4 separate regions of the Homo sapiens genome follow, and all the other regions are linked to region 1. The links come from fine-mapping of genetic effects on gene expression. A gene starts in region 1. Each other region holds a variant in brackets. All regions are shown on one strand. Distances are from middle to middle. Region 1 holds the start of CLIP1 (CAP-Gly domain containing linker protein 1). Region 2 has its middle 38 kb from the start of ZCCHC8. Region 3 has its middle 21 kb from the start of CLIP1. Region 4 has its middle 31 kb from the start of CLIP1.

Region 1 (5,148 bases):
CGGGAGGCTGAGGCAGGAGAATGGCGTGAACCCGGGAGGCAGAGCTTGCGGTGAGCCGAGATCGCACCACTGCACTCCAGCCTGGGCGACAGAGTGAGACTCCATCTCAAAAAAAAAAAAAAAAAAAAAAATTAACGCCAAGACTCCATGATGAACAAAATGATATAATTATAAATAAATAAGCAAATGATGAACATGACAATGACATAGAATAACCCATGAGAACAAGCAAATATACACACACACACACACACACATATATATACATATATATATACATGTGTATATATATATATATTTTTTGAGACAGAGTCTCCCTCCGGCACCCAGGCTGGAGTGTAGTGGCTTGAACTCTGGTCACAGCAACCTCCGCCTCCCGGGTTCAAACAATTCTCGTGTCTCAGCCTCCCGAGTAGCTGGGACTACAGGCATGCACCACCATGCCCAGTTAATTTTTGTATTTTTTGTTAGAGACGGGGTTTCACCATGTTGGCCAAGCTGGTCTTGAACTCCTGTCTGCAGGTGATCCACCCACCTGGGTCTCTCAAAGTGCTAGAATTACAGGCGTGAGCCACCACACCCAGCCCCAAAACAATATTTTTAATAAAGACAGGCTCAGCCTACTGAGTAGAGAAGAAAAGACAAGCCCATAAGTGTTCCTAGCTGAACTCCCCCATTAGAAGTGGTCTGTGCCTCATCCTATGACATCTATGATTCCACAGCTTGCTGATTACAGCTGAAGACTGTTTAGATTAGGGGGTGAGGCGCGCCTTTCAGATTAGGAATATGGATATGGGATTTCAGGAGTACCACCACCACCTGACCTTGCAGCCTGTAAATTAGGGCGATGTTGAATTAGGTAACAGCATTTCGAGGGATTTCAGACATGAATGGAGAGGAGGGGCCAGGAGACAAATTTACATAGTTCAGAACTTCGTGCATTACCAGAGCAGTTCCCTCTTCCTGCTGGTCCAGGCAGCACGGTGCTTTGAATAAAGGTCAGCTAGAGGGGTCACCCGCCGATTATTCTCTTCTACTGGCAAGGAGGAGGAAGCCCCTGCCCCCTTATCCACCACAAAATCCTGGGCTTCCCCGACAGCTGCAAATTCCTCCCTGGAGATGTAAGGCTTCTGGGGTTGCCATGGTCCATGGGAGTGAAATGCTGGCCGCCCTCTGCTACCCCAGCCCCGAGCAGGCTGTTGCAGCCTTCCCTCCTGTCCCTTTCAAAAGCTTTTAAAGGAAATCCCAGGGGGGAAGGAGGATGGGACACTAACCAGGGCTTCCGTCCAAGCAGCCAGGGCGAATAAAAGGGGCTTTTCTCAAACGAACGGAGCAAACCCTGGGATCGTTTCAAAGGATTTTTAACCCGCGGTCGTTCCCGGAGGGAAGTGGGGAGCAGATACAGTTCTTCCCAAGCTTAACCTGCTCTACAGTTCCTTTCAGCATTTTCTCCAGGGACGCCTCATCCAGGGTCTTTCCCTGGAGGGAGGCGAGGGCAGAGATGATCCTTCCCAATCCCCAACTTAACCTGCTTCGGAAGCGCCTTGCAGCCTGTTTCAAAGGATTTCTCACCCTTGTCTGGCGGGAAGGGGAGGGCAAACAAATGAATCAGCCCCAAAGAGCGGGCTGAGGTCGAGGCTGAATGGGGCTCTTGGGTGTGACTTGCAAATTCTGGGAACACTTTGCAGAAATGACGAGAAGCCCCTCGGAGCAGGCCTGTGGGTTTTCCCTCGCACCTTGCTCCCCAAGCCGGGGCTCGGGAGGGTTCGAGGGCGGAGCGGCGGGCGCGCCGGGGCCAGGGTCCTCCCGGGGCCGCGGTGGGCGCAGACAAAGAGGCGGCGGGGCGGCGCGGGGCCGGGCGCGGGCCGCAGGGCCGGTGCGGACTCGAGGGGCCGGGCCGGCCGGGCCGGCCGGGCGGGCGCGGCGGCGGAGCGCTGGGAGGAGCCGCGCGGCGTCTTCTCCTGGCAGCGCGCGCCCGCCCGGCCCCGCGGCGGCGGCGGCGCGTCACGCTCTCCCCCGCCCCGAGCCGACGAGCCGGGAGGCGGGAGGCGGCGGCCGCGGCGGCTGCTGCTGCTGCAGTGGGACAGGTGGCGGCGACCGGCGGCGTCCGAGGAGGTGAGCAGGGGGCGGCGCGGGCCCTCTCCCTTTCCCGGCACCCCCTGCTCCCCTGCCGGCTTCCCGGCCTGCGGGGCCCGCCCAGGGTCGGGTCGGGGGTCGAAGCCCGGCGTCCGGGAGCGGGGCCGAGCCTCGCGCGCCGGAGCCGTCCGGGAGGGGACCGCGGGAGTCTCGGGTGGCCGGCGCCGGAGGCCGGGGGTCCCTGGGGGGCTCCTCCGGAGCTGGAAAAGTGGCGGCCCTGTCAGCGCCGAGCCGGGCCTTCGCTTCCTCCGCCCGCCTCAAGATGGAGCTTGGACTCCTTGCCCCTGCGCCGCCCCAGGCGCCGCTCTCTCCCTGGCGCCCCGCTCCCTCTCCTGGGCCCCGGGGCGGATGTGGGATCGGCCGGACCCCGGGAGGCCGAAGCCGGGCGGGACCTGTTGCCCCGGGCGCCGCGCCTGTCACCTGAGCATTCCTCAGGCCCCGGGTGCCCGGCGCCCGCGATCCGGCATGGAGGGCACCCTGGCCCGGCCTCCCCCGCTGCCCCGGCTTTTGTTTTCCTCTCAAGTGGGGCTGTGATTCTCGGAGACCGGGGAAGGCTGGAGGTGGCCAGATCGCTCTCGGGTTTCCGAAATCACACCGCTGCCCGGTAATCCGAACCTTCTACCGCGGCAGGGGATTGGCGCGGAAGGCAGATGACACTTGTTCAGAGGTTATTTTACAAGCAGAACCTAGCGATTGCCCGAATTGGAAGGTCCTGCCTTTCAAAAATCGGGTTTTGATTCGGGGGTGAATCCTGAATCCGGCTGTTTCTCCACTTCATGTGGCTTTTCCATCTGGCAGGAGCCGAGCGCCACCCCCTCCTCCCTGCACAGCCCCACCTCTTTGGTATGAAGAAATTACACGTTGTCCGTCATCGGTTTAGATACCTGTTTTTAGCAAAACTTGGGCGCCAGTGAACTGTTTTTTAAAACAAAGGGTGGAGAAGATTCTGTAATTGTGTGTGTGTGATTCAGCAGCCTGGCCTTCTTCCTCTTTTAGGACAGTGGCCCCTAGCAGCTCTATAAGTATTAAGTGCTGTGGCCACTGCTGTCATTAGGGTTATGATTCTGGCTGTTCTTATTATTTGATTTGTGTCACTACTGTTAGCGATGGTATCCACGAATCAGGAGAGTATCCCAGAGTCAGGAATGTGTTTGTTTGACTTTTAGATTTAATGATAACCTTTAGCAAGAATCCCCAGGCATGTCGCTTCTCAGACTTGGGGCCTTTTTTTCTCTGTAAATTATAACAATGAACATTTATTGAAGGCATCTTGTGGCCAGGCTCTGGGCTAGCTTTTTATGTGTTTTATTTCATTTAATCAACCCTAACCCAGTGAGCGTGCTGTCGTCATGTGCATTCGGCAGGAGGGTCATAGAAAGGTCAAGTAACTTGACCAGGGTTATACAGCTAAGCACCTGAAGTCAGAATACCTTTTACCAGCATGTGAACTCAGGTATTCTGACTTCAGGTGCTTAGTTATTCGATTAGTATAGGGAATCTGTGGCAAAAAGCAAGGCTAGTCTGTCTGTCTGTCTATCCATCCATCAATCAATCAATCAATCAATGAGAGGGAGCCTCAATCTGTCCCCCCGGCCAGAGTGCAGTGGCGTGATCTCAGCTCACTGCAATCTCGGCCTCCCAGGTTTAAGCGATTCTCGTGCCTCAGCCTCCTGAGTACTGGAATTACAGGTGCCCGCCACCACGCCCGGCTAATTTTTGTATCTGTGGTAGAGATGGGGTTTCACCACGTTGCCCAGGCTGATTTCGAACTCCTGGGCTCAAGTCATCCACCTGCTTTGGGCTCCCAAAGTGCTGGGATTACAGGTGTGAACTACCGCACCTGGCCCCAAGGCTGGTCTACATTAAAGCAAAGTTGAAGTGGGTAATTGCTTGGCCAAAGGCTTGTGCCCGATTTTTAAGGTTCAGAGAAAGCAGTTAAGTACATCTTCCCACTAGACCTAGTTCAAAGGGGAAAACTGAAACCGGGTGGGACCCTGGGTAGGTATTTTGCCTGAAGATCAAGATTTTGCCCTTCCCTATTTTTTCAATCATTGCTTCAGCTCCAGCTTGCACTTCAGCATGACATAAGCTAATCTGGTTTCTGTCCTATTGAGGAGTTTAGAATCTGATATCCTTATCTCTTTTTTTTTTTTTGACATGGAATTTCACTCTTGTTGCCTAGGCTGGAGTGCAATGGAGTGATCTCGGCTCACTGCAACCTCTGCCTACTGGGTTCAAGCGATTCTCCTGCCTCAGCTTCCCGAGTAGCTGGGATTTTAGGTGCCTGCCACCATGCCTGGCTAATTTTTTGTATTTTTTTAGTAGAGATGGAGTTTCATCACGTTGGCCAGCCAGGCTGATCACACCTGACCTCAGGTGATCCGCCTGCCTCAGCCTCCCAAAGTGCTGGGATTATAGGTGTGAGCCACCACGCCTGGCCTGATGTCCTTATCTTAAAAAAAATTTTTTTTACCTAGTGGCTAAAATTCACTCTGTCACATCCCATGTGACTCATAAGGGACATGAACTAACTCAGTCATGTTTGATTCTTGCTTTTTTTTTTTTTTTTTTTTGAGACAGAGTCTCGCATCTCGCTCTGTTGCCCAGGCTGGAGTGCAGTGGTGCAACCTCCGCTTCCCAGGCTCAAGCAATTCTCCTGCCTCAGCCTCCCGAGTAGCTGGGATTACAGGCACACACCACGGCACCGGGCTAGTTTTTGTATTTTTAGTAGAGACAGGGTTTCACGATGTTGGCCAGGCTGGTCTCGAACTCCTGACCTCAAGTGATCCTCTCACCTCGGCCTCCCAAAGTGCTGGGATTACAGGCATGAGCCACTGTGCCCGGCCGATTCTTGCTTTTTAAGTGCTGTCTGCTGGGATTCGAAAGCCAGTGGATGGTGTATAAGAGATGAGTTGATTCTCTTATGGCCCATACAAAGGTAGGCACCTTTGAACCTTTCACATACTGGGCACCTGGTTCTTCGTTATTACTTACAGGTAGATTTCTGGTCTT
Region 2 (5,148 bases), 40 kb before region 1:
ATTGTGATGGGGTCTCCCTACATTACCCAGGCTGGTCTTTAACTCCTGGGCTCAGGAGATCCACCCGCCTTAGCCTCCCACAGTGTCAGAATTATAACCACGAACCACCACGTTCCGCAAAAAAATTATTTATTTATTTATTTATGAGATGGAGTCTCGCTCCGTCACCCAGGCTGGAGTGCAGTGGCGCAATCTCAGTGGCGCAATCTCAGCTCACTGCAACCTCTGCCTCCCAGGTTCAAGCGATTCTCCTGCCACAGCCTCCCTAGTAGCTGGGACTGCAAGTGCATGCCACCATGCCTGGATAATTTTTTTGTATTTTTAGTAGAGATGGGGTTTCACCATGTTGGCCAGGCTGGTCTTGAACTCCTGACCTTGTGATCCGCCACCTCAGCCTCCCAAAGTGCTGGGATTACAGGCACGAGCTACCGCGCCCGGCCTAAGAAATGTATTTTTTAAACAAAATTTCCTATCAACAATATGGCTGCATTTGGAATTTTGTAATAGGAGGAATTACTGAAAAGGCAAGGGGTGTGGCCCTTACTGAACGCTGACATTCCGGGCAGCTGAGATTGCTCCTTTGTAGGGTGACCTCATGCCAGAGTGATTTCTTAATGTTTTCCGTCATGGAAGCAAATTCATTAGTCATAAGTGAGAATGACAAATGAAACTGGATTGGAACAGGTTGTGGGATTGGACCTGGGGCAAATTTCTCACAGACTTGGAACAAGTTTCCTTCTGTTCCTACCACAGTCCTGATCTTGGATTCTTCAAACCAATTACAACTCTGTTCATTGTACTGGCCCATTCTACTAAGTTTTTATTTAGAACATTTGGAGGAATACTGAACACCTACTATATGAGGGTAGTTGAAATCTAATAGGGTTCATGACTTTAGAGAGTCAAGGATTAGGACAGGCATAGCAGGCATGTGGTAGAAACAGAATGTTTGCCTACAGTCATAATTGAAGGAAATGTCAAATTTCCCTGAATTCTATCCAGAAGGTCCGTGGACCCCCAGTTAAGAACCTTGCAGCAGGGCTGGATGTGGTGGCTCACGCCTGTAATCCCAATGCTTTGGGAGGCCAAGACAAGAGGATAGGTTGAGGCCAGTAGTTTGAGACCAGTCTTGGCAACATAGCAAGGTTCGAGACCTGTCTCTACAAAAAATAAACAAAATTAGCTTGGTGTGGTGGTACACACCCGTGGTCCCAACTGCTCGGAAGGCTGAGATAGGAGGACGGTCGAGGCTGCAGTGGACTGTGATCGTGACATTGAACTTCAGCCTGGGTCAGAGACAGACCCTGTCTCCTAAGAAAAAAAAATTTTGTTGAGCAAGTGACTAGATTCAAAGGTTAAAATAGCCTACTTGTATATTACCTTTTAGAGATTGGCTGAGGTCTAAGTAGATTGGTGCTCAGGGTAAGAGTTTGAACTCAGTGATCACTAAGGTTCCTTCCAACTCTTTTTTTTTTTAGAGAAAGGGTGTTGCTCTGTTGCCCAGGCTTCAGTGCAGTGATGTGATCATAGCTCACTATAGCCTCGAACACCTGGGCTCTCGCTATCCTCCTGCCCGGCCTCCCAAGGAGCTGGGGCTAAAGGCACATGCTGCCATGCATGGCTAATTTTTTCATTTTTATTTTATTTATTTATTTATTTTATTATTTTTATTTTTTGAGACGGAGTCTTGCTCTGTCGCCCAGGCTGGAGTGCAGTGGTGCAATCTCAGCTCACTGCAAGCTCCGCCTCCCGTGTTCGCGTCATTCTCCTGCCTCAGCCTCCGGAGTAGCTGGGACTACAGGTGCCCGCCACCACGCCCGGCTAATTTTTTGTAGTTTTAGTAGAGACAGGGTTTCACCGTGTTAGCCAGGATGGTCTGGATCTCCTGACCTTGTGATCCTCCCACCTCGACCTCCCAAAATGCTGGGATTACAGGCGTGAGCCACTGCGCCCAGCCTCATTTTTATTTTTGTAGACATGGGGTCTCAGTTTGTTGCCCAGGCTGCTCTTGAACTCCTGGGCTCAAGCAATCCTTCTGCCTCAGCCTCCCAAAGTGCTGGCATTACAGGCCAGAGCCACTGCACCCAGCCATCCTTCCAACTCCTTGGTCTGTGTTTTGCCCTTACTTGAGCTTCCTTCATCATAACTTGCAAACTTGCATTTCATTTTTGATGAACTGAAGCAATTTTCTTTCTTTTTTTTTTTTTTTTTTTTTTTGAGATGGAGTCTCGCTCTGTCACCCAGGCTGGAGTGCAGTGGCGTGATCTCGGCTCACTGCAAGCTCTGCCTCCCAGGTTCACGCCATTCTCCTGCCTCAGCCTCCCGAGTAGCTGGGACTACAGGCACCTGCCACCATGCCCAGCTAATTTTTTGTGTTTTTAATAGAGATGCGGTTTCACCATGTTAGTCAGGATGGTCTCAATCTCCTGACCTCGTGATCTGCCCGCCTCGGCCTCCCAAAGTGCTGGGATTACAGGCGTGAGCCACCGCACCCGGCCTGAACTGAAGCAATTTTCTAAGCTCCTTCTTTATTCTGATGCTCAGAGTAAAATTGCCAGTATATTTAATGTGCTTTGTGTAAATGACTCACTCCTGAGTGTTTTTAGGATGTTTAGATAAAGATAGGCCTTGTTGTGCTCTTTAGAAGAAATTGCGACCAAGTGTGTTTTACAAAGGAATAGGTAAATAACTGCAGGCACAAAACATAAATGATCCACTGAATATTCATCAGTTATGGTAGGAATGGGTGGTATTCATTTCCCAGTTTGTTGAGTATTTTTATCAAGAAGGAGTATTGAGTTTTGTCAAATACATTTTCCGTATTGAGATTATCATGCAGTTTTTGTCCATTCTATTGATTCAATGTATTACATTAATTGATTTTCAGATGTTGAACCAACCTTGTATTCTATCACATTTGATCATATTGTTTAATCCTTTTTATA[T/C]ATTGGTGGATACAGTTTGCTAGTATTTTGGTGAGGATTTTGTATCTATGTTTATTAAAATATTGGTCAGTAGCTTTCTCCTTTTTCAACCATTTCTTGTATTGATTTTTAATTAAAAAATAATTTTTTTTTGAGACAGGGTCTCTCTCTGTTGCTCAGGCTGGAGTGCAGTGGCAAAATCTTGGCTCAATGCAACCTCCACCTCCCAGGCTCAAGAGATCCTCCCACTTCAGACTCCTGAGTAGCTGGGACAACAGGTGTACACCACCATGCCAGGCTAATTTTTTTATTTTTTGTAAAGATGGAGTTTGACCATGTTGTCAGGCTAATTTTTTAAATTTTAATTTTTTTGAACCAAAATGTCTTTTAATTGAATACTGAATACATTCTGTTAGGACATAAGAGTGACTGACAATTTTTTTTTTTTTTTTGACACGGAGTTTTGCTCTTGTTGCCCAGGCTGGAGTGCAGTCATGCGATCTTGGCTCACTGCAACCTCTGCCTCTCAGGTTCAAGCAATTCTTGTGCCTCAGCCTCCCTAGTAGCTGGGATTACAGGCACCTGCCACCATGCCCGGCTAATTTTTGTATTTTTAGTAGCACAGGGTTTCACCATGTTGGCCAGGCTGGTCTCGAAGTCCTGACCTCAGATGATCACCCGCCTTAGCCTCCCAAAGTGCTGGGATTACAGACACAAGCTCGATTTTACAGCCCAGTTTTTTTTTTTAAGACAGGATCTCCCTTTGCTGCCCAGGCTGGAGCACAGTGACATAAACATCGCTCACTGCAGCCTCTACCTCCTGGGCTCAAGTGATCCTCCCGTCTCAGCCTCCCAAGTATCTGAGACCACAGGTAAGCACCACCATGCCCAGCTAATTTTTAAATTTTTTATAGAGACAGAGTCTTGCCTTGCTGCCTGGGTGAGTCTCAAACTCCTGGGCTCAAGAGATCCTCCCACTTCAGTCTCCCAAAGTGCTAGGATTGCAGGCATGAGCCACTGCGCCTTTATAAGACTGATGTCTTTATAAGAAGAGGGAAATCTGGCACAGAGAGATGGAGGCAGAAAGCGATGTGGAGATGGAGGCAGAGACTGGAGTGATGCATCTATGAGCCAAGGAATGCCAGAAGCTGTGAGAGAGGCATGGAACAGCCCGTCCCTCAGAGTGCCCAGAAGGAGCCAACCTGGGAATTCTAGCCTTGAAAGCTGAGAGAATATGGCTGGGCTCAGTGGCTCACCCCTGTAATCCCAGGACTTTAGGAGGCCAAGGTTGCAGTGAGCTGAGGTCGTGCCATTGCACTCCAGCCTGGGCAACAGAGTGAGACTCTGTCTCAAAAAAACAAAACAAAACTGAGAACTGAGAGAATATGTTTCTACATTTCTGCTGATTAAGCCACCCAGTTTGAGGGACTTTGTGGAAGGCCCCAGTTAGCTGATTCTCATCCTTACAGACAGGCAGAATCTTTTCCAAAGAATTGCATCCATGTTCATCTTTTCCTGTTTTCTGTGATCTCTGAGGAGTCCGAGACTTCCAGAATGAGATGAGCATTTCATAGTCAACATTGGCCTTATCTCGCCAGACACTGAGTACAGTCAACCCTACAGTAAACTCTACTATACTATATTACTATATAGGGCTATGCTATAGCAATAGTTCTCAACACAGAGTTTACAGACAAATTGTCTCTCAGAAATCCACAAGTTCTCCACATAATTATTTTTTTTTGAGACGGGGGGTCTCTCTGTTGTCCAGGCTAGAGAGCAGTGGTGAACTCTTGGCTGACTGCAGCCTCGACCTCCCAGGCCCAAGTGATCCTCCCAACTCAGCCTCTGAGTAGCTGGGATCACGGGTGCACGCCACCACACCCGGCTAATTTTTTTTTTTTTTTTTTCAGTAAAGACAGGATTTTGCCACGTTGCCCAGGCTGGTCTGGAATTCCTGGCCTCAAGTGATTGCCCACCTTGGCCTCCCTAAGTGCTGGGATTACAAGCGTGAGCTGCTGTGCCTGGCCCTGATAAATTTTTATATTTTCTGCTTTCATTTCAATGATAATGAAAAATCAGACATTAAGATCTTTTTTTTAATTTATTTTTTTGAGACAGCGTCTCGCTCTGTTTCCCAGGCTAGAGTGTTGTGACGCAATCTCGGCTCACTGCGACCTCTGCCTCCCAGGTTCAAGGGATTCTCCTACCTCAGCCTCCCAAG
Region 3 (5,148 bases), 21 kb before region 1:
ATTCTTCTGCCTCAGCCTTCCTAGTAGCTGGGATTACAGGCGTGCAACATTATATCCAGCTACTTTTTGTATTTTTAGTAGAGACTGGGTTTTATCAGTCTCTGGTTTCATTGGCCACACTGGTCTTTAACTCTCAACCTCAGGTGATCTGCCAGCCTTGGCCTCCCAAAGTGCCGGGATTACAGGCGTGAGCCACCATGCACGGTTCCTTTGCTTTTTTGTTTGTTTGTTTTTTGAGACAGAGTCTCACTCTGTTGCCCAGGCTGGAATCCAGTGGCACAATCATGGCTCACCACAGTCTTGACCTCCTGGGCTCAGGTGATCCTCCGACCTCAGCCTCCTGAGTAGCTGGGACTATAGGCAAACACCACCACACCCAGCTAATTTTTTTATATTTTTCGAAGAGACAGGGTTTTGCTATGTTGCTCAGGCTAGTCTCCAACTCCTGGACTCAAGCAATCCACCCGCCTCGACCTCCCAAAATGCTGGGATTACAGGCATGAGCCACCACGCCCGGTCACACATTTTGTTTATCTACTCATTAGTTGATGGACATTTGGGTTGTTTCTACTTGTTGACTCTTATAAATAATGCTATGAACATTCGTGTACCAGTTTTTGTATGGATATATGTTTTTATTTATCTTGGGAATACACCTATGAGGATAATTACTGGGTCATATGGGAACTCTATGTTTCACATTTTGACAAGTTGACAAACTGTTTTCAAAGTAGCTGTGCCATCTTACATTCTTACCAGCAATGTATGAGGATTCTAATTCCTTTACATTCTTGGCACCACTTGTTACTATCTGTCCCTTTTATTTTAGTTATCTTAGTGGGGGTGAAGTGGCATCTCACTGTTATTTTGATGGGCATTTCCCCAGTGACTGATGTTGAACATCTTTCCATGTGCTTATTGGCCATTTGTATATCTTCTTTGGATACATGTCTATTCAAATTCTCTACCTTTTTTTTTTTTTTTTTTAACAAATGGGGGCTGGGGATCAGGCGTGGTGACGCCTGTAATCCCAGCACTTCCGGAGGCCGAGGCGGGTGGATCACCTGAGGTCAGGAGTTTGAGACCAGCCTGACCAACATGGAGAAACCCCATCTCTACTAAAAATACAACATTAGCCAGGCATGGTGGCGCATGCCTGTAATCCCAGCTACTCGGGAGGCTGAGGCAGGAGAATCGATTGAACTCGGGAGGTGGAGGTTTTGGTGAGCTGAGCTCATGCCATTGCACTCCAGCCTGGGCAATAAGAGCGAAACTCTGTCTCAGGAAAAAAAAAAAAAAAGCAGAAAAAGAAAAAGAAATGGGGGCTGGGGACAGTGGCTCAAGCCTGTAATCCCAGCACTTTGAGAGGCCAAGGCGGGTGGATCACCTGAGGTCAGGATTTCAAGACTGGCCTGGCCAATATGGCAAAACCCCATCTCTACTAAAAATATACAAATTAGCTGGGCGCGGTGGCACGTGCCTGTAGCCCCAGCTACTCAGGAGGCTGAGGCAGGGGAATCACTTGAACCCAGGAGGTGGAGGTTGCAGTAAGCTGAGATTGCCCTACTGCACTCCAGCCTGGGCGACAGAGTGAGACTGGGTCTAAAAAAAAAATAAATGGGGTCTTGCTATGTTGTCCAGGCTGATCTCAAACTCCTGGACTCAAGTGATCCTCCTACCTTGGCGTCTCAAAGTGCTGGGATTACAGGTGTGAACCAACCATGCCTAGCCATCCTCTGCCCATTTTTAATTGGGCTATATGTCTTTTTATTGTTGCATTGTGGCTGGGAGCAGTGGCTCACGTCTGTAATCCTAGCACTTTGGGAGGCAGAGGCAGGAAGATCACGTGAGGCCAGGAGATCAAGACCAGCCTGGTCAACATAGTGAGACCCCATCTCTATAAAAAGATGTAATGGCTGGGGACGGGAAAACCAAAGTGGGAGGATTGCCTGAGCCCAGGAGTTCGAGACCAGCCTGGGCAACACAGAGACACCAACTCTTCATTTCTCTGCCTCATCTGAAACGAGGCGGCTAACTTCCAGTTTGCAGAAAATATAAGAAATAGAAGAAAAGGCCGGGCACGATGGCTCATGCCTCTAACCCCAGCACTTTGGGAGGCTGAGGCGGGCAGATCACTTTAGGCCGGAAGTTTGAGACCAGCCTGGCCAACATGGTGACACTGTGTCTCTACTGAAAATACAAAAATTAGCCAGGCGTGGTAGTGCATACCTGTACTCCCAGCTACTCGGGTGGTTGAGGCGGGAGAATCGCTTGAACCTGGGAGGCGGAGGTTGCAGTGAGCCGAGATCAAGCCAATGCACTCCAGCCAGGGCAACAGAGTAAGAAAAAGAAAGAAAGAAGGAAAGAAAGGAAGGAAGGAAGGAAAGAAAGAAAGAAAGAGAAAGAAAGAAAGAAAGAAAGAAAGAAAGAAAGAAAGAAAGAAAGAAAGAAGAAAGAAAGAGGGAAGGAGGGAAGGAGGGAACGAAGGAAGGAAGGAAAGAAAGAAAGAAGAAAGAAAGGGAAGGAGGGAATGAAGAAAGGAAGGAAGGGAAGAAAAGGAAGGAAAGGAAGGAAGCAAGGAGGGAGGGAGAGGGAGAGAGAAAGAGAGACAGAAAGAAAGAAAGAGAAAGAGAGAGGAAGAAAGAAAAAGAAAGAAAGAAAAGAAAAGAAAGGAAGAAAGGAAGAAAGAAAAGAAAAGAAA[G/AGAAAG]GAAGGAAGAAAGGAAGAAAGAAAAGTTAAGCCAGGTGCGTGGCTCATGCCTGAAATCCCAGCACCTTAGGAGGCTGAGGCGGGCAGATCACGAGGTCAGGAGTTCAAGACCAGCCTGACCAATATGGTGAAACTCTGTCTCCACTAAAAAAAAAAAAAAAAAATTAGCCAGGTGTGGTTGTGTGCGCCACCTCGTCTCTATTAAAAAAAAGTTAAATAACAAATCCAGAAGGAAGAACATTCTATAGGACAACTGGCCCAGTTTTTTCTTTCTTTCTTTCTTTCTTTTTTTTTTTTTTTTTGAGATGGGGTCTCGCTTTGTCACCCAGGCTGGAGTGCAGTGGGACGATCTTGGCTCACTGCAACCTCTGCCTCCTGGGCTCAAATGATTCTCTTGCCTCAGCCTCCTGAGTAGCTGGGGTTACAGGCACGCACCACCAAGTCCAGCCAATTTTTTTTTTTTTGTAGTAGAGACGGGGGGTTTCACCATTTTGCCCACGCTGGTCTCAAACTCCTAAGCTCAAGCAATCCACCACCTTGGCCTCCCAAAGTGCTGGGATTACAGGCATGAGCCACCACAACCAGCCCAATTTTTTCAAAGGCATTACAGAAAAAAAAAAAAAGGAGGGTACTGTGATACACTGAAAAACTAAAAATAGTGTTAAGAGAAATTGAAGAAGACCTAAATAAATGAAAAGACGGCCGGGCGCAGTGGCTCACACCTGTAATCCCAGCACTTTGGGAGGCCGAGGCAGGCGGATCATGAGGTCAGGAGATCGAGACCATGCTGGCTAACATGGTGAAATCCCGTCTCTACTAAAAATACAAAGAAATTAGCCGGGCGTGGTGGCGGGCGCCTGTAGTCCCAGCTACTCAGGAGGCTGAGGCAGGAGAATGGTGTGAACCCAGAAGGCGGAGCTTGCAGTGAGCCGAAATCGCACCACTGCACTCCAACCTGGGTGATAGAGCGAGACTCCGTCTCAAAATAAAATAAAATAAAATAAAAAATAAATGAAAAGACATTCTGGCTGGGCGCGGTGGCTCACACCTGTAATCTCAGCACTTTGGGAGGCTGAAGCGGGCGGTTCACCTGAGGTCAGGAGTTCGAGACCAGACTGGCCAACATGATGAACCCTCATCTCTACTAAAAATAAAAAATTAGCTGGGAGTGATGGTAGACACCTGTAGTCCCAGCTACTTGGGAGCCTAAGGCAGGAGAATCGCTTGAACCCGGAGGTGGAGGTTGCAGTGAGCTGAGATCGCACTACTGCGCTTCAGCCTGGGTGATGGAGAGAGACTCCATCTCAAAAAAAAACAACAACAACAAAAATTTTTTTAAAAGATGGAGTCCCACCCTGTCACCCAGGCTAGAGTGAAGTGGTGCAATCATAGCTCACTGTAGCCTTTTAACTCCTGGTTTCAAGGGATCCTCCCACCTCAACCTCCCGAGTAGCTGGGACCACAGGCGCATGCCACCATGCTCAACTATTTTTTTGTTGTTGTTCTCTTTTCACTTTTCTTTTTTTTTTTTTTTAAGAGTTGATGTCTCTCTCAGCCTGGCCATCATGACAAAACCCCATCTTTACTAAAAACGCAAAAATTAGTGGGGCATGGTGGCACATACCTATAATTTCAGATAGCCAGGAGGCTGAGACACCAGAATCACTTGAACCTAGGAGGCAGAGGTTGCAGTGAGCTGAGATTGTGCCACTGCACTCCAGCCTGGGCAACACAGTGAGACTTTGTATCTGAATTTACAAAAAAAGAGAATTCTGGACTGGATATAAAGATTTAGCAGGCTGGGGGCCGGGCGCAGTGGCTCAAGCCTGTAATCCCAGCACTTTGGGAGGCCGAGGCGGGTGGATCACGAGGTCAGGAGATTGAGACCATCCTGGCTAACGCGGTGAAACCCCGTCTCTACTAAAAATACAAAAAATTAGCCGGGCGTAGTGGCGGGCGCTTGTAGTCCCAGCTACTCGGGAGGCTGAGGCAGGAGAATGGCATGAACCCGGGAGGTGGAGTTTGCAGTGAGCCGAGATTGCGCCACTGCACTCCAGCCTGGGTGACAGAGCGAGACTCCGTCTCAAAATAAATAAATACATAAATAAAGATTTAGCAGGCCGAGCACAGCAGCTCAAGCCTGTAATCCCAGCACTTTGGGAGGCCAAGGTGGGTGGATCACTTGAGGTCAGGAGTTTAAGACAAGCCTGGCCAACATGGTGAAACCCCATCTCTACTAAACATAGAAAACTTGGCCAGGCACAGTGGCTCACGCCTGTAATCCCAGCATTTTGGAAGGCTGAGGTGGGCGGATCATGAGGCCAGGAGATTGAGACTATCCTGGCCGACATTGTGAAACCCCATCTCTACTAAAAAAATACAAAAATTAGCTGGGTGTGGTGGCACATGCCTGTAATCCCAGCTACTCGGGAGGCTGAGGCAGGAGA
Region 4 (5,148 bases), 31 kb before region 1:
CTTTCTTTCTTTCTTTCTTGAGACGGAGTCTCGCTCTTTCGCCCAGGCTGGAGTGCAGTGGCACGATCTCGGCTCACTGCAAGCTCTGTCTCCCAGGTTCACACCATTCTCCTGCCTCAGCCTCCCAAGAAGCTGGGACTACAGGCGCCCGCCACCACGCCTGGCTAATTTTTTGTATTTTTTTTTAAGTAGAGACGGGGTTTATCCATGTTAGCCAGGATGGTCTCGATCTCCTGACCTCGTGATCCGCCCGCCTCGGCCTCCCAAAGTTCTGGGATTACAGGCGTGAGCCACTGCGCCCGGCCTTTCCTTCTTTCTTTTTCTTTTCTTTTTTCTTTCTTTTTTTTTTTTTTTTTGAGACGGAGTCTCGCTGTGTCACCCAGGCTGGAGTGCAGTCTCGGCTCACTGCGAGCTCCGCCTTCTGGGTTCACGCCATTCTCCTGCCTCAGCCTCCTGGGAGTAGCTGGGACTACAGGCGCCCACCACCACACCAGGCTAATTTCTTTGTATTTTTAGTAGAGATGGGGTTTCACCATGTTAGCCAGGATGGTCTTGATCTCCTGACCCGGTGATCCGCCTGCCTTGGCCTCCCAAAGTGCTGGGATTACAGGCGTGAGCCACTGCGCCCAGCCTTTTTTTTTTTTTTTTTTTTTTTTTTTTTGAGACAGCATCTTGCTCTGTCACTACTCAGGCTGGAGTGCAGAGGCATGATCACGACTCACTGCAGCCTCAACTTCCAGAGGCTTAAGTGATCCTCCTGCCTCAGCCTCCCAAAGTGCTAGGTTTACAGACTGAGTCCCCACACTCTGCCTTTATGGAGACTTCTTCATGCAGGCGTGATCCATTATTAACTTAATCTCCAGCCCTTTCCCCTCACCCAGAAGACGGAGGGTGAGGCTGAAAGTTTCAGGATGCTAATCATGGTTTGGTCATTCTGGTGACCAGCCCCCATCCTGAAGCTATCCAAGAGCCCACCAAGTTTGGCTTCATTAGAACAATAGGTCTTCCTGTCACCCAGAAAATTCCAAAGGATTAGGCGCTCGTATTAGGAGACAGGGTCAAAGACCAAATGGTAGAACGAAAGATGCTCCTAACATTTTTTGCTTTAGAAACTGCAAAGGTTTTAGGAGCTCTGGCCAGAAGCCAGGGGCAACAAAGATCAAAATGTATATTTCTATTTTTTTTTTTTTTTGACACAGAGTCTCGCTCTGTCACCCAGGCTGGAGGGCAGTGGTGCGATCTTGGCTCACTGCAGCCTCCGCCTCGCGGGTTCAAGTGATTCTCCTTCTCAGCTTCCCGAGTAGCTGGAATTACAGGCATGTGCCACCATGCCCAGCTAACTTTTGTATTTTTAGTAGAGACGGCGTTTCACTGTGTTGGCCAGGCTGCTCTCAAACTCCTGGCCGAAAGTGATCTGCCCACTTTGGCCTTCTAAAGTGCTGGGATTACAGGCGTGAGCCACCATGCCCGGCCTATTTCTTATTATGTCACAATATCACATCCTATCAGCAGGAGGGAGAAAAGAAAGATAAATGTTTGCCCTCTCCCTTTAAGAAAACTGCCTGGACTGGACACTGTAGCTCACCCCTGTAATCGTAACTACTCGAAGGCTGAGGCCGGAGGATCGCTTGAGCCCAGGAGTTCAAGTTTGCAGTGAACTGTAATCATGCCACTATACTCTAGCCTGGGCAACAGAGCAAGCCTCCATCTCTTACACACACACACACACACACACACACACACACACACACTTCCAAGAGGTTGCATGGGCTACTTCAGCTTGGCCAGAACTTATTTTCATGGCCATCCCTAATAACACAGGAAGTTAGGAAATGTCTTCATTCTGGATGTCACATGGCAGGAAGAATCAGATACAGGAAGAGGGTAGAATGGCTTTGAGGGGGGCGGGACTTCTGGTAGTCTCTGCTTCAGTCTTTGAAAATGGAAGCACAGTAGTGAATGTTATAGTTGACTGTGCAATACTCACTTTACCCTGATCATGGTATATTCAGGGTGGACAGACCTGGGCCCATCTGGGCCCACCTGGGCCAAGGAGATGCATGCCAGAGGGTGCGTGTGTGCGTGCACGTGTGTGTGTGCATGCACACGCACACTTAGAAAACCATAGGAAAGGCCAGGAGCAGTGGCTCACACCTGTAATCCCAGCACTTTGGGAGGCCGAGGCAGGCGGATCACCTGAGTTCAGGAGTTCGAGACCAGCCCGGCCTAAAGGGCGAAACCCCGTCTCTACTAAACATACAAAATTAGCCAGGTGTGGTGGCGCAGGCCTGTAGTCCCAGCTACTAGGGAGGCTGAAGTAGGAGAATCGCCTGAACCTGGGAGGCAGAGGTGGCAGTGAGCCAAGATTGCACCACTGCACTCCAGCCTGGGGAGACAGAGTGAGACTCTGTCTCAAAAAAAAAAAAAAAAAAAAAAAGCAAAAGCAAAAGCAAAAGCAAAGCAAACCACAAGAAAGCATGAATAGGAAATTGTCAGGCCTCTGAGCCCAAACTAAGCCATCATATCTCCTGTGCTGCACGAATACATCCAGATGGCCTGAAGCAACTGAAGATCCACAAAAGAAGTGAAAATAGCCTTAACTGATGACATTCCACCACTGTGATTTGTTTCTGCCCCACCCTAACTGATCAATGTACTTTATAATCTCCCCCACCCTTAAGAAGGTTCTTTGTAATTCTCCCCACCCTTGAGAATGTACTTTGTGAGATCCACCCCCTGCCTGCAAAACATTGCTCCTAACTCCACCGCCTATCCCAAAACCTAAAGGAACTAGTGGTAATCAC[G/A]CCACCCTTTGCTGACTCTCTTTTCGGACTCAGCCCGCCTGCACCCAGGTGAAATAAACAGCCTTGCTGCACACACAAACCCTGTTTGGTGGTCTCCTCACACAACGCATGAGACAGAAATGTATCATATATCATATCCATTGCTCTGGCAACCATCTTACCTTAGGATGGTTGAATGAAGGATGAAGCCACCTCCGCAAATGGCAGAGAAAGAGAAGAAAAGATTTTGGGTGCTTGAGAAATTTAGCGGCTTGAGCCACTACATCAACCAGCCCTGAAGCTGAACCGTGTTGCAAACGTCCTGTTTTGTGAGCTAATGAGTCTCCTTATTGTCTCCGCTAGTCTGAGTTAGACCAGCTGCTGAAATCGTGATAACTGATGTAAACTCTAATAAAATGTAAGGTAATTTTTGACCAGCAGAGCATAAACCTCAACATCTGACTGGTCCCAGCAGATTTAGGCACCCTTATCTCCTTTTAGCTTTAGGAATTTCATTTGGGATTCAAATGGCTTTATCTGACAGGAACATATGCATAGCTGTTTCCAGGTAGGCTCTGATGGCCTGTATTTGATGGAGTAAGATTGGTTTTACATTTAAGAAAGGTTAAAGTAGAGGGGAACAGGCATTCTCATACATTATTGGTGGGGATATAAATTGGCTCACTCTTTTTTGGGAGGGTAATTTTTTTAAAAATGTAAATGTACATATTTTAGATTCAGTGGTTCTAATCTAAGCATTAATCCTACAACTATGTTTGTAAAAGCACACTGTATGCGCTTCAGATTCAAGCTTCTTGGTAAGACAAAAAACATTTTTAAGAAGAAAAGAAATACGAGTATACTATATATGCACCCAAGGCTGTTTATTGTGGCAATGTGTGTAGTAGCAAGTACTGAAAATAACCTAAATGTCTATTGGTAGGAATCTGTTGAAATCATAGCACACTATGATCTTACAACGCAATGGTTTAAAAAAATGAGGAGGCTGGGTACAGTGGCTCGCGCCTGTAATCCCAGCACTTTGGGAATCTGAGGCAGCAGGATCGCTTGAGCCTAGGAGTTCAAGACCAGCCTGAACGACATGGCAAGAACTCATCTCTAGGGAAAAAAAAAATTAAATAATTTAAAATATGGGGCCAGGCGTGGTGGCTCATGTCTATAATCTCAGCACTTTGGGAGGCCGAGGCAGGTGGATCACCTGAGGTTGGGAGTTCGAGACCAGCCTGGCCAACATAGAGAAACCCCGTCTCTACTAAAAATACAAAATTATCCTGTAATCCCGCATACCTGTAATCCCAGCTACTCGGGAGGATGAGGCAGGAGAATTGCTTGAACCTGGGAGGTGGAGGTTGCAGTGAGTAGAGGTTGCACCACTGCACTCCAGCCTGGGCAACAAGAGCAAAACTCTGTCTCAAAAAAAATTTTTTTAATATAAGGTAATCTACATCTTCTGATATGGAAAGAGGTCTATCTAGAGGTCTATCTATATATTCCCCTAATATATGTATTAACTAAAGAGTGTGGGTGTGTGTGTATATATAAAAGATAAGTTGTAATAGATAATATATAACATGTATTATTTAATATATTAACTTTTCTTTGTAATACATGTTAACTAAACTATATTACACATATATGTATGTTACATTTTATATTGTTACTGGAATACATATATTTATATATATATACTTTGTTAATTTTTTTTTGAGACAGAGTCTTGCTCTGTTGCCCAGGCTGGAGTGCAGTGGTGCGATCTCTGCTCACTGCAACCTCCGCCTCCTGGGTCCAAGCAATTCTCTGCCTCAGCCTCCCAAGTAGCTGGGACTACAGGCAGGTGCTACCACACCCGGCTAATTTTTGTATTTTTTATAGAGACGGGGTTTCGCCATGTGGGCCAGGCTGGTCTTGAAGTCCTGGCCTCAAGTGATCCACCCGCCTCGGCTTCCCAAAGTGCTGGGATTCCAGGCGTGAGCCACCATGCCTGGCTGAATGTATATATATGGTTAGGTGCAATACCCACATATATGAGTTTAAATAATTTTGATTTGCTGTCTCACATCATAAATTACACAAAAAATCTATCCCAGGAGAATAAAAGCAAAAACCTTAAAAATTTTATAGGAAAATATAGGCTAATACTTTGTGACCTAAGAGTTTTAAAAACATCTATTAATTGAAAAGCACCATTTAAAAAAATTTAAAAAACACAACAAAACAAAACAAAAAAAAAACAGGGCACGTATGGGAAAAAATATTTGGAACATATAGAATCATAATATATTAAAAACCACTACAATCAGTTTAAAAATAGACAATGCAACAGAATAATGGGCCAAAGATATGA

Evidence for each region. PIP is the estimated chance that this variant, and not a neighbour inherited with it, causes the effect. A credible set is the group of variants that fine-mapping cannot tell apart.
Region 2: its variant is the best candidate, but not a certain one, in a credible set for the expression of CLIP1 in whole blood (TOPMed, PIP 0.54).
Region 3: its variant is the best candidate, but not a certain one, in a credible set for the expression of CLIP1 in whole blood (INTERVAL, PIP 0.63).
Region 4: its variant is the best candidate, but not a certain one, in a credible set for the expression of CLIP1 in whole blood (INTERVAL, PIP 0.69).

What each region holds. Positions count from the first base shown.
Region 1 is chr12:122,419,488-122,424,635 of GRCh38, reverse strand. CLIP1 (CAP-Gly domain containing linker protein 1) reads left to right here and starts at 1,967. Exons shown (of 26, transcript NM_001247997.2): 1 at 1,967-2,115. RefSeq lists an enhancer at 692-791 and silencers at 1,901-2,250, 2,271-2,670.
Region 2 is chr12:122,459,959-122,465,106 of GRCh38, reverse strand. No RefSeq gene overlaps it. Among named protein-coding and RNA genes, the nearest start is that of ZCCHC8, 38 kb to the left of the region's middle. The variant T/C (reference allele first, on the strand shown) is at 2,946.
Region 3 is chr12:122,440,795-122,445,942 of GRCh38, reverse strand. No RefSeq gene overlaps it. Among named protein-coding and RNA genes, the nearest start is that of CLIP1, 21 kb to the right of the region's middle. RefSeq lists an enhancer at 2,037-2,537. The variant G/AGAAAG (reference allele first, on the strand shown) is at 2,702.
Region 4 is chr12:122,450,835-122,455,982 of GRCh38, reverse strand. No RefSeq gene overlaps it. Among named protein-coding and RNA genes, the nearest start is that of CLIP1, 31 kb to the right of the region's middle. The variant G/A (reference allele first, on the strand shown) is at 2,805.